3 separate regions of the Homo sapiens genome follow, and regions 1 and 3 are each linked to region 2. The links come from fine-mapping of genetic effects on gene expression. A gene starts in region 2. Each other region holds a variant in brackets. All regions are shown on one strand. Distances are between the middles of the regions.

Region 1 (4,142 bases), 32 kb after region 2:
CCCGCCTCGGCCTCCCAAAGTGCTGGGATTACAGGTGTGAGCCACCGCGCCTGGCCTATTTTATTTTTTTTTTTGAGACAGGGTCTCATTTTGTCACCCAGGCTGGAGTGCAGTGGTGTAATCATAGTTCACTGCAGCCTCAAACTCCTAGGCTGAAGCAATTCTCCTATCTCAGCCTCCTGAGTTAACTGGAACCACAGGCATGAGCCACCACGTCCAGCTAATTTTTTTTTTTTTTTTTTTTAATGTTTTTGTAGAGACAAGGTCTCGCCATGTTGCCCAGGCTGGTCTTGAACTCCTGGGCTCGAGCGATCCTCCCATCTCAGTCTCCTGAGTTAGCTGGAACCACAGGCATGAGCCATTACACCTGGCTAATTTTTTTTTATGTTTTTGTAGAGACAGGGTCTTGCCATGTTGGGTCTCGAACTCCTGGGCTTAAGTGGTCCTCTTGCTGCAGCCTCCCAAAGTTCTGGGTTACAGGCATGAGCCACTGCGTCCAGCCGGCCATAGAGTGGAACTTTTACGATGTTAAATATCCCCTTGTGTGGTTTCTGTGTTTCACATCCTTCCTAGAAAGGCTTCCTTCTGGTGGGTGCCTTGCCTTCTTCTGAGACATCTCTGTGGGTCTCAGAGCCATCGTTGCTGTGTTCCCTTTACCCTGGCCCAGCACCCTTATCCTCTCAGGCAGTGTGCCTGTGTTTGTCAGGCTGGCTTATGGGGTGGGGACAGAAACCCACTGATGCACCCTCATCCAGACTTTATTATTTATGTATTTTTGAGACAGAGTCTCGCTTTGTTGCCCAGGCTGGAGCGCAGTGACACGATCTCGGCTCACTGCACCCTCTGCCCCCTGGGTTCAGGTGATTCTCCTACCTCAGCCTCCCGAGTAGCTGGGATTATAGGTGTGTGCCACCATGCCTGGCTAATTTTTGTAATTTTAGTAGAGATGGGGTTTCATCATGTTGCCCAGGCCAGTCTCAAACTCCTGACCTCAAGTCATCTGCCTGCCTCAGCCTCCTGAAGTGCTGGGATTACAGGCATGAGCCATCGTGCCCGGCCACATCCAGACTTCAGGTGTGGAAAGGAATCATGGTTCTCACAGGTGGCTGCTTTCAGCAGCTGAGGGGGTTTCTCTTTCTGGCCTTCATCTCTTCCTCTCTTTTTGCCTGCTCGCTCTTCTTTCTCTCTCTCTCTCTCTCTGCAGATTTCTGCTTTCTGGGCTCTTGCCTGCCCCACACCTAAGCCCTGTGCTAAGCCCTTTACCTCCTGAGCTTATGTAGGCCTCACCACCATCCTAGGAGGTAGGTATTGTTATAAACCCCATTTTATAGATGAGGAAACTGAGGCTCAGGGAGATAGCAGTCTCCCTCGAGGTCACAGCCAAGTAGCTTTCCAGCCAAGATTTGAGTCTGGATCTATCTAGCTTCCAACCTGCCCTCTTTCTTTTCTTTTTTTTTTTTTTTTTTTGAGACGAAGTCTCACTCTGTCACCCAGGCTGGAGTGCAATAGTACAGTCTCAGCTCACTGCAACCTCTGCCTCCCAGGTTCAAACAATTGTCCCACCTCAGCCTCCTGAGTAGCTGGGACTACAGGTGCGTCCCAGTACACCGGGCTAATTTTTGTATTTTTAGTAGAGACGGGGTTTCACTATGTTGGCCAGGCTAGTCTTGAACTTCTGA[C/T]CTCGTGATCCACCCGCCTCAGCCTCCCAAAATGCTGGGATTACAGGCGTGAGCCACCATATCCGGCCAATGTTTTTTTTTTTTGAGATGGAGTCTCGCTCTGTTGCCCAGGCTGGAGTGCAGTGGCGCTATCTCAGCTCACTGCAACCTCTGCCTCCCAGGTTCAAATGATTCTCCTGCCTCAGCCTCCTGAGTAGCTGGGAACACAGGCACACGCCACCATTCCTGGCTGATTTTTGTATTTTTAGTAGAGATGGGGTTTCACCATGTCGATCAGGCTGGTCTTGAACTTTTGATCTCGTGATCTGCCCGCCTCAGCCTCCCAAAGTGCTGGGATTACAGGCGTAAGCCACCGTGCCCGGCCTAACCTGCCCTCTTTGTTCACATGAACTGGGAGAAAATCAACTGACAAAATCTGGAAATGGGCGGGGCGAGGTGGCTCACGCCTGTCATCCTAGAACTTTGGGAGGCCAAGGCAGATGGATCACCTGAGGTCAGGAGTTTTGAGACCAGCCTGGCCAACATGGTGAAATCCCATCTTTACTAATAATACAAAAATTAGCCAGGTGTGGTGGCATTCACCTGTAATCCCAGCTACTGGGGAGGCTGAGGCACAAGAATTGCTTGAACCTGGGAGGTGGAATTTGTGGTGAGTCGAGGTCATGCCGTTGCACTCCAGCGTGGGCAACAGAGTGAGACTCCATCTCAAAAAAACAATCTGGAGATGACATATACAACACATGCATCTTTCCAGCTTGGTCTCCCAGTCTGTAGAATGAGGAGGTTGGTCAGGCATGGTGGGTCGTGCCTATTATCTCAAGGTTTGGGTAGCTGAGGTGGGAAGATCATTTGAGGCCAGGAGTTTAAGACCAGCCTGGGCAACATAGCGAGATGCCATCTCTACAAAAAGATTTTTTTAAAAAAGAAAACAATCAGAATAAACACAAGTATTTAAACTCTGAGACAGATACACAAGTATTTAAACTCCGAGACAGATAATAATTGCAGTTGTACAATTGCTTCTGGTGTACTTGGCATTTTGAGTTACAGAGAATCAAGAAATATGATTCTCACAGATGAATGGTTACAAATGGTAATTTTTTTTTTAATCAGCTCACCTTATCATAGGAACAGATACAGCAGGAGAAGCTTTATTTAAGAGACACAAACAAATATATTTACCAACAAGCCATCACAAAAATAATAACTAATAACAACAACAGTAACAGCTAACATACAGTGGTTAGCTATCCTAAGCGTTTTACATGCATCTTTAGATATGCTTTAAACCTTATAGCAACCTGTAAGGTTGGTACTCTTTTTTTTTCTGAGATGGCATCTCACTCTGTCGCCCAGGCTGGAGTGCAATGGCGCGATGTCGACTCACTGCAACCTCCACCTCTCCAGTTCAAGCGATTTTCCTGCCTCAGCCTCCCGAGTAGCTGGGACTACAGGCGCCCACCACCACGCCTAATTTTTGTATTTTTAATAGAGGCAGGGTTTTGCTATGTTGGCCAGGATGGTGTCTAACTCCTGACCTCAGGTGATCCACCTGCCTCAGCCTTCCAAAGTGCTGAGATTACAGGCATGAGTCACCATGCCCAGCCAAAGTTTTTTGTAAGGATGAAAAATATTTTTTTTAAAAATGAAATCAGGCTGGGCACAGTGGCTCACGCCTATAATCCCAGCACTTTGGGAGGCCAAGGTTGGTGGATCACGAGGTCAGGAGTTCAAGACCAGCCTGACCAACATGATGAAACCCCGTCTCTACTAAAAATACAAAAATTAGCCGGGCATGGTGGTGTGTGCCTGTAATCCCAGCTGCTCAGGAGGCTGAGGCAGGAGAATCAGGAGGCCTTCTCAAAAAAAAAAAAAAAAAAGGAATCAAAGCCCGACATGGTGGTGGTGGCACATGCCTGTAGTCCTAGCTATTTGGGAGACTGAGGCTGGAGGATCACTTAACCCCAGGAGTTTGAGGCTGTAGAATGATACTGCACTTCAGCCTGGGTGACAGAGGGAGACTCCATCTCTTCAAAAAAAAAATGGGTGAGGTGGGGTGGCTCACGCCTGTTATCCAAGCACTTTGGGAGGCTGAGGTGGGTGGATCACTTGAGTGCAGGAGTTTGAGACCAGCCTGGGCAACATGGTGAGACACTGTCTCTACAAATACAAAAATTAGTCAGGTGTGATGGTGTGTGCCTATAATCCCAGTTACTAGGGAGGTTGAGGTGGGAGGATGGATTTAGCCTGGGAGGTCGAGGTGCAGTGAGCTGTGATCCCGCCTCTGTGCTCTGGCCTGAGTGACAGAGCAAGACTCTGTCTCAAAAAAAAAAAAAAAAAAAAAATAGAATCACATAGTTGGATCTTGGAAATGCCTGCTCTGTCAGTAGCATTCAGGAGTTTACCACATGCTAGAAGATCTTGGGATCTTCACAGCCCCACTCATCTAGCCCAGACTTTCTA
Region 2 (4,142 bases):
AAGAGGGAGCAGGTGTCCACATGCTCCAGATGAGACGGAGGGGACCGCTGCTCCTGTCTCGAGGAGGCTTCCACCACCTACCAGCCAGGCGTCCTCGGTAATCCTAGCACCTCTGCCACAGGGCACTAATGCCCAGTTCCTGGGTTGTAAAGGGCTGTGCCCCAGTCCCCCAGCAGGCCCCAGTGAACATACGAGAAAGGATGGAGGCCGCTGTCTGGACACTCAGGACATGGCAGCGTTTTGCTGGGACAGTCATCTGCCCTTCAGGAAAAAGGGTGCAGGTGGGCAGGAGGCCCTTAGATGACGCCAAGGGGAGCCTTCGTGGGCTCCACGTGGTGTGCTCCCTGCCCATCCCTCTGGGCTCAATGCAGTTCCCCAGGTGGTGGTTTGGGTTTTCACTCCAGCCTCAGACTTCCTTCCTCAGCCCCAGCCCCCGGATGTGGTGACAGAATCGATACTGTACCGACCTCAGCTACCCCCAACGGCCGTACACCAGGAAGAGGGGCTCTTCTGGCAGCCCCCATCCTCAGCCAGCCCTGCCATTTCCAGTCCTGCCAGCATCCCAGCCAGACAGGTGGCCCTTCTCTTAGAGCTCAAACCTAGGCCTTGACTTGTCAATCAAAGGGGTGGGTGGGGCAGCTTCCCTCAAGCAACTTCACTCTGGGATCTTGGGCAAGACGTTTTGCTTCTCTGAGGCTTCAGCTTATTCTGTGTAAACTAAATGGTAGCCACTATTTGATTATTAGCTGGGGAGGAGAGATCAAGCCTGACCCCTGTAGCGGCTGGAGTTTTACAGCAGGGCCCACCCAGCACCCAGTAGGTCCTCACAGATACTTGCTGGGTGACTGAATGGGTGTGCCCACCCATCAAAGCCTGAGTGCTGGAGGTGGCCACCCCTTTCCGCGTATTATCAGAGACAACCACCTCTTACTGAACTGCTGCGTTTCCAGGCACCAGTATACCATGGCATCGGCTCCCACCATCCCATGTGGGGTCAGTCCTATTACAGTCCCAACAGATGGAGGGACTGAGGCTCACAGAGAAGCCACTCACCCAAAGTCACATGGAGAGAAAGACACGCACACGTACTCCACATCCCCAGGAGACACACTCTGCATCTATGAAGTGGTATGGGTGTGCTGTCCTCCCTCGGGGCAGCCCCACACTATCCTAAGGCGGGGTTGGGGTGGGCGGGGGGATGGACCCTCCCCACCCATCCAGTTAGCGCCATGCACCTTGCCCACCATCGCTGGAGACAGACCTAAGGCGAGCCCCTTCCTACCCATCTGGAGGCCTCGGTCTTTCCATGTGTTAAATGGGCTGGGGCCGGGGGACGCTCTGCAGCACCCCCTTCCCTGGGCTGGGACGCGGCGGGGAGGGCAGGGGTGACGCTCGGAGAACAGAGAGGCCGAACCCAGAGAGCGGGCCGGGACCTGATACCGATTTCCCACCCGTCCCCTGCCATGGGCGCCGGACGCCTGCCGGAGAGGGCTCCCCTCCTTAAAGGGCCAGTGGCCTCCAAGCCCGACGCCTGCGACCGGCGGTGGGTGATAGTGTTTCCCCTCCCTGTCCAGCCGAGGGAAAAGTTAACTTTCCAGGCTTGGCTGTGTTCAGGGAAGGAACTGGTCTCGCCTGCCTGCCCTCCATCCCTCACACCATCCCTTGTCCCGGACCCTGGAGGCGGAGGTCCAGCCCCCAACTCGGAGGCCCCGGGCCCACCCTCCCCTTCCGCCCCCGGCCCCTCGGCAGGCTCCGCCCCTCTCTGACGTCGCCGAGGCCCGCGCCGATTGGTCGACTGCACTGTCGCTCCGGACACTTCCTCCTGGGCCGCCGCCGCCGCCGCCGACTTAAACTTTGGAGGGGGAAAAAGAGCTACTGGCGCCTGGCGACCCTCCCTGCCCCCCACCCAACCCCGCTCCGGCAACGCCCCCTTCCTCACGGCTCCCGACCGAACTTTTCTCCAACTTCTGCGACTCGTGAGATTCCCTTCTACCCACTCCGGCCCTCGGGACCCCTCTGCCCATCCCCTGGCCGGTCGGGTCCCTGCGAACCCCTTTATCTCTGGAATCCACTCGGTCCCCGACTCAGAGACTCCTGCCCTCCACCCCCAAGGTGAATTCCCCCGGGCCGCCTTCTGAGTGGGATCCTCTTCTTGGAGCACTGGATCCTGGGATTCCCTCTGCCCCCTTCTCAATCCCTCCTCTAGGGAAGGGGCCTTTGAATCGCGGGCTCTCCTGATCCCTGTGACCCCGACCTACTAGATTTCCTCTCAGGCTTCTTGGAATCTCAATCGCTGGGACCTCCAACCCACTACTTTTCTCCTTTCTGATCTTCTGGGAGCCCTGGATTCCGGGCCTCTGACCCACTATAGTGCCTTTCTCTCCTTCCCAGGACCCCGCCATCCTCAGGTCCCCTCCGCCTGCCAGATCTTTTCTCGGATCCCCGCTCTCCCACCACCTGCTCACGAGATCCCGCGGATCTAGAACCCAGGGTCCCCCGGGGCCCCCCGGCCGGGTCCCGGGTGGGCTCCAGGCGGCCGGTCCCCGGCCTCCCCCCATGGCCACCGCCCCCTCTTATCCCGCCGGGCTCCCTGGCTCTCCCGGGCCGGGGTCTCCTCCGCCCCCCGGCGGCCTAGAGCTGCAGTCGCCGCCACCGCTACTGCCCCAGATCCCGGCCCCGGGTTCCGGGGTCTCCTTTCACATCCAGATCGGGCTGACCCGCGAGTTCGTGCTGTTGCCCGCCGCCTCCGAGCTGGCTCATGTGAAGCAGCTGGCCTGTTCCATCGTGGACCAGAAGGTGAGGGCGCAGGCTCCCTGGATCCAGCTCGGGGAGAGGTTGAAGGAGGGGGCGCTGGCAGAGGGGTCTGGGGCCTGGTGTGCGGAAGAGGGAGGAAGGAGACCTGAGCTTTGGGTGATGGAGGGATAGGGGGCATTGCCCCCCTCCATTGCCCCTCTCCCCACCATCCCTTTGAGAGAGGACTGGGCAGGGGTGGGGTGCCCCAGAGGCCTCCCCAAATTTCATGTCCCTGCATGTCGTTGTTTTCTGCAGCAAACAGGGAGGAAGGGAGGGGCCAGCCAGGTGTAGAGAGGGGAGGAAGGGGCAGCAGATGTCGGCGGACCTCCACGTCCAGGCCCATCCCGGGCCTCCCATTTGGTGGAAACAGGAGAAATTGAACCCGGGCTGGCCATGGTGATCCGGTGACATGTGTGGGTGCAGGTGCTTGAGTTAGCTGCCAGGGGCAAGTGAGGTCTCGGAGCCCAATTCTGCCCTCCCCTAAGCCTGAGATATGTGTGGAGGGGCAGGCACTCCTACAGACCCTGGGGACTCTATTCCCTTTCCTAGTCACAGTGCTGTTAGCCTACTCTTAATTTTGGACACCAGGGTCCCCAGGGTGGGCAGCTGGGTGTTATGGCAAGAGGAAACCAGGTGGAACTCCACGTCTAAACCGTGAAATGTTAAAAGAATAGTGGGCTTCTGTGTTGGAGTACTGGACTGTAGAAATGTTAGAATATTAGAATCATAACTTGTTGGAATATGCATCCTAGGCAATTAAATTGCCCCCATGTTCGTGTTCAAATATTAGAATTCTAGGTTTGTGAAATAGTAAAACATTAAAATGCTGGAATATTAGATTCCTAGATTGTTGAATCCTAGAAAGTTAAAATGTTAGAATTTTAGAATGCTGGATGGATGAGGTCCTTGAATGCTAAAGAATTCAAAGAGCACAGTCCTAGCTTGTCAGACTCCTAGAATATTAAAATATTAGATTACCGCTTATTTAGGTTATTGAAATCCTAAAATGTATAGTGATACCAGGTAGGAATCTAGAATGTATAATTCTATAATGTGAGCATGTTGGAGTCCCAAAATATCCAAATTCCAGAATCTTTTCAGACTCCTGGAAATGAATCCTTTGGGCATCAGAGAAACGTGGGGAACTGGGCCAGCTCCCCCATTCTACAGACAAGGAAACTGAAGCTTAGAGAAAAACTTCCCAAGGGGTCAGGGCCAAGGCAGTCCTGGTCTTCTGTGGACTCTCTCTTAGCAGTGAGAACTGATAGGGTTTTGCCCACCAAATGCCTCAATCCCGCAGGCCCAGCTCACCACCCCAACTCAGCCCACTTCATGGGAAGCTGGTGGCA
Region 3 (4,136 bases), 37 kb before region 2:
ATGCGGGGCAGGGCCAGGGGCGGGTAGGGGAGCGTGTCGGCTGCCACCACCACGGGCTGGGCTGGGTCTTGCTGCAGGAAGGAGTCTACCAGCTCGGGCACCGCGTTGTCAAATGCCTCGAACTCCCGCACCAGGACGGTGACACGGGGGCCGGCAGCAGAGGCACGACGGGGCCCCCGGGCCCGGGAATTCCTAGGCTGGTGCTGCAGCCACGAGACATAGAAGAGGACCAGAAGGTTGAGGGTGATGGCGGCCGCCAGGGCAGCCTGGCAGCGGGTGAGCCGCATGGGGCCGAAGTCTGGGGCTAGCTGGGCCTCCGGGGCATCCTGGGGGAGGGGGACGAAAGGGAAGGCAGCAGCTGATTGTCAGAACCACCCCCTTCTGCCACCCTCAGCCTTGCCCCTTTCTACAGCTCTTTCTCAATTCCCTTTCTTTTCCCTATTTGGTTTCAGCTTTGACTTCCCCTTCTCCAGGAAGCACTCCCTGACCTCCCAGTCTGGGCCATGCACCAACTCTGGGTGTCCTCAGAATTTTTTTTTTTTTTTTTAAACAGAGTGAGTCAAACTAATAGAAACATAAAGTAGAATGACGGGTGCCAGGGGTTGCAGGCAGGGGGGAATGGGGAGTTGTTTGATAAGTACAGAGTTTCAGTTTGGGAAGATGAAAAGGTCCCAGAGGTTTGTTGGCACAACAGTATGAATGCATTTAACACTACTGAACTGTGTGCTGAAAAATGGTTAAGATGGTACATTTAATGTTATATATACTTAATCAGAATTTAAAAAAAATTTTAAGTGGGGTGCTGAAAAATATAAATGAAAAAAAAAGGTTAGGCTGGGCGCGGTGGCTTATGCCTGTAATCCCATCACTTTGAGAGGACAAGGCAGGTGGATTACCTGAGGTCAGGAGTTTGAGACCAGCCTGGCCAACACGGTGAAACCCCATCTCTACTAAAAATACAAAAGTTAGCTGGGTGTGAGGGCGGGTGCCTGTAAGCCCAGCTACTCAGGAGGCTGAGGCAGGAAATCGCTTGAACCTGAGAGATGGAGGTTGCAGTGAGCGGAGATGGCACCATTGCACTCCAGCCTGGGCAACACAGCGAGACTCCGTCTCGAAAAATAAATAAATAAATAAATAAACAAACCAATTTAAAACAAGAAAAACAAAACAAAAGTGGGGTGGGCCAGGTATGGTGACTCACGCCTGTGATCTCAGCAATTTGGGAGGCCAAGGCAAGAGGATCACTTGAACCTGGGAGGTGGAGGTTACAGTGAGCCGAGATGGCACCGTTGCACTCCAGCCTGGGCAACAGAGTGAGACTGTCTCAAAAAATAAATAAATAAATAAATAAATAAATAAATAAAAATTAAAAAAAAAAAAGAAAAAACAAAAGTGGGGTGGGCCAGGTACAGTGACTCACACCTGTGATCCCAGCAATTTGGGAGGCCAAGGCAGGAGGATCACTTGAGTCCAGGAGTTCGAGACCAACCTGAGTAACATAAGGAGACTTCATCTCTACAAAAAATAAAAAATTAGCTGGGTGTGGTGCTACTCACCTATGGTCCCAGCCACTCAGGATGCTGAGGTGGGGGGATGGCTTGAGCCAGTGAGCCATGATCATGCCACTGCACTCAGCCTGGACAAGAGTGAGACCCTGTCTCAAAATACCCAACAACAACAAAAAACTGGGGTAGCTTGCATCAAAAGAGGCTGCCAACCTTAGGACACTCCCCTCCACATTCATTGGCCACACCCTCAAGCACCAGATGGCGCTGTCTCCTTGTCCCCACCG[A/C]GACTGAAGATTTGGCTGGCCGGTCTCCAGCACAGGTGGTATAGCTCTGGGTTCCAAGCAGATGATCAAATAATTTCCCCATGAAGGCTTTTTGTAGGTTTCTGCCCTTCCTAGAGAGAGGGGGCATCCAACTAACCTCCCTATGTCCTAAATCCTCTGTCCCCTCCTCCCCATTTCCACAGCTCCCTCCTCAACCAGGTCCACCCACATTCCCATCCAACCTCCCCCTGGTCTCCTGGCAATTCCTCTCCCCGTGATAGCCAGAGGAGTCTTCCTAAAGCACAAGTTGGACCTCTCCTTCCCCTGCTCTGAACTTGCCATGGCTCCCAGTGCCCAGGGGAGAAAGTGGAAGCTGCTTCTGACATTCCCCTTGTCTGCCCCCCATTCCACCCTCATCTCTTGCCATGCTTTCCCCAACCTGTATGTTTAAGTCACCCTGAACATTTTCTCAAACTGCTCTTATTTCTTTTCTTTTCTTTTTTTTTTTTGAGATGGAGTCTCCCTCTGTTGCCCAGGCTGGAGTGCAGTGGCAGCTATCTCATCTCACTGCAACCTCTGCCTCCCGCGTTCAAGCGATTCTCCTGCCTCAGCCTCCTGAGTAGCTGGGATTACAGGCATGCGCCACCACACCCGGCTAATTTTGTATTTTTAGTAGAGACGGGATGTTGGTCAGGCTGGTCTCGAACTCCTGACCTCAGGTGATCCACCCGCCGTGGCCTCCCAAAGTGCTGGGATTACAGGCGTGAGCCACCGCGCCCAGCCAAAAACAATTTTTTTTTTTTTGAGACGGAGTCTCACTCTGTTGCCAGGCTGGAGTGCGGTGGTGCGACTGGCTCACTGCAACCACCGCCTCCAGGGTTCAAGCGATTCTCTTGCCTCAGCCTCCTGAGTAGCTGGGACTACAGGCGCGTGCCACCATGCCCGGCTAATTTTTGTATTTTTAGTAGAGACGGGTTTTCACCATGTTGGGCAGGATGGTCTCAATCCCTTGACCTCATGATCTGCCTGCCTTGGCCTCCAGAAATGTTGGGATTACAGGAGTGAGCCACCACACCCAGCCAAAATATATATATTTTTTAAACGGACAGCGTCTTGCTCTGCTGCCCAAGCTTGAGTGCAGTGGTGCAATCACGGCTCACTGCAGCCTCGAATTCCTGTGTTCAAGCCATCCTCCTGCCTCAGTCTCCCGAGTAGCTGGGACTACAGGCATGCAATACTGTGCCTGGCTAATTTTTCAAACACATTTTTGTGGAGACTGGCTCCCACTATATTGTCCAGGCTGGTCTCGAACTCCTGACCTCAAGTGATCCTTCCGTCTCGGCCTCCCAAAGTGCCAGGATTACAGGCGTGAGTCACCATGTCCTTTCTAATCTTTAGAATCCTGGAATTGCCTTCTGGACCTTAGATTGATTCTTCCTTCCTTCAATCCTTCAACATCTATTTGTTGAACTCCTACAACATGCCAGGCACTGTTCTAGGCACTGGAGAGAGAGCAACAGATGCTCAGAGACAGACAACATTCCTGCCCTTGTGGAGCTCCCATTAGTGCAGGGGCAGGAACCTTTGCAACCACAGAACCTCAAGCCCTTCAAAATCTTAGAGTTTAGGTACATAGGAGCTCCGAACACACATGAGATGGTTAGTCTGCATATCCTTGAAGGTCACAGCAAGAGACTGTCTTCCCGCTTCTGTTCCTGTGGTCTGTTCCTCATTCAGCACCTCGAGAGATCCTGTCACAACTCACATTTCATCCTGTCCTGGCTCTGCTCAGGCCCTTCTGTGGCTGGCACCTCGCAGGAAAAGCCAAGGTACTCAATGTGGCCCATAAGGCCCCGCGTGATCTTCCATCCTTTCCTACTCACTCACTCAGCTCTAGGAACATTGGCCACCAACACCATCTTTCAAACACACCTGGGACACTCCAGCTGCAGAACTGCCTGTTGCCTCTGTCTGAGTGTTCTTATCCCAGATAGCCACAGGCGATCCACCCCACTGCGCCGGCCCCCACCCCCATCACTCCAATGTCACCTTCCCATAACCTCTTCCTTTGGCCATCCTATTTAAAAATGCATCTTGGTGGGCTGGGCATGGTGGCTCATGCCTGTAATCCCAGCACTTTGGGAGGGCGAGGTGGGCAGATCGCCTGAGGTCAGGAGTTCAAGACCAGCCTGGCCAACATGGTGAAACCCCATCTCTACTAAAAATACAAAAAATTAGCCAGGCGCGGTGGCGGGCGCCTGTAGTCCCAGCTACTCGGGAGGCTGAGGCAGGAGAATGGCGTGAACCCGGGAAGCGGAGCTTGCAGTGAGCCGAGATTGTGCCACTGCAGTCCGCAGTCCGGCCT

The links. PIP is the estimated chance that this variant, and not a neighbour inherited with it, causes the effect.
Region 1: its variant is fine-mapped to the expression of PRKD2 in prefrontal cortex (GTEx, PIP above 0.99). The same link has a PIP of 0.9 or more in anterior cingulate cortex, cerebral cortex and nucleus accumbens.
Region 3: its variant is fine-mapped to the expression of PRKD2 in unexposed skin (GTEx, PIP above 0.99).

Annotation. Positions count from the first base shown.
Region 1 is chr19:46,682,584-46,686,725 of GRCh38, reverse strand. The region is part of intron 14 of PRKD2 (protein kinase D2); the gene reads left to right. Among named protein-coding and RNA genes, the nearest start is that of DACT3, 23 kb to the right of the region's middle. The variant C/T (reference allele first, on the strand shown) is at 1,680.
Region 2 is chr19:46,714,785-46,718,926 of GRCh38, reverse strand. It overlaps PRKD2 (protein kinase D2), which reads left to right and starts at 1,813. Exons shown (of 18, transcript NM_016457.5): 1 at 1,813-2,796. The coding sequence starts at 2,557. LOC107987269 reads left to right here. Exons shown (of 4, transcript XM_017027568.2): 1 at 1-281; 2 at 425-574; 3 at 951-1,128; 4 at 1,750-2,393. The coding sequence ends at 2,116. RefSeq lists enhancers at 518-567, 4,079-4,142 and silencers at 1,688-1,847, 1,868-1,917.
Region 3 is chr19:46,751,602-46,755,737 of GRCh38, reverse strand. It overlaps FKRP (fukutin related protein), which reads right to left. Exons shown (of 4, transcript NM_024301.5): 4 at 1-326. The coding sequence starts at 287. Among named protein-coding and RNA genes, the nearest start is that of STRN4, 7.2 kb to the right of the region's middle. The variant A/C (reference allele first, on the strand shown) is at 1,793.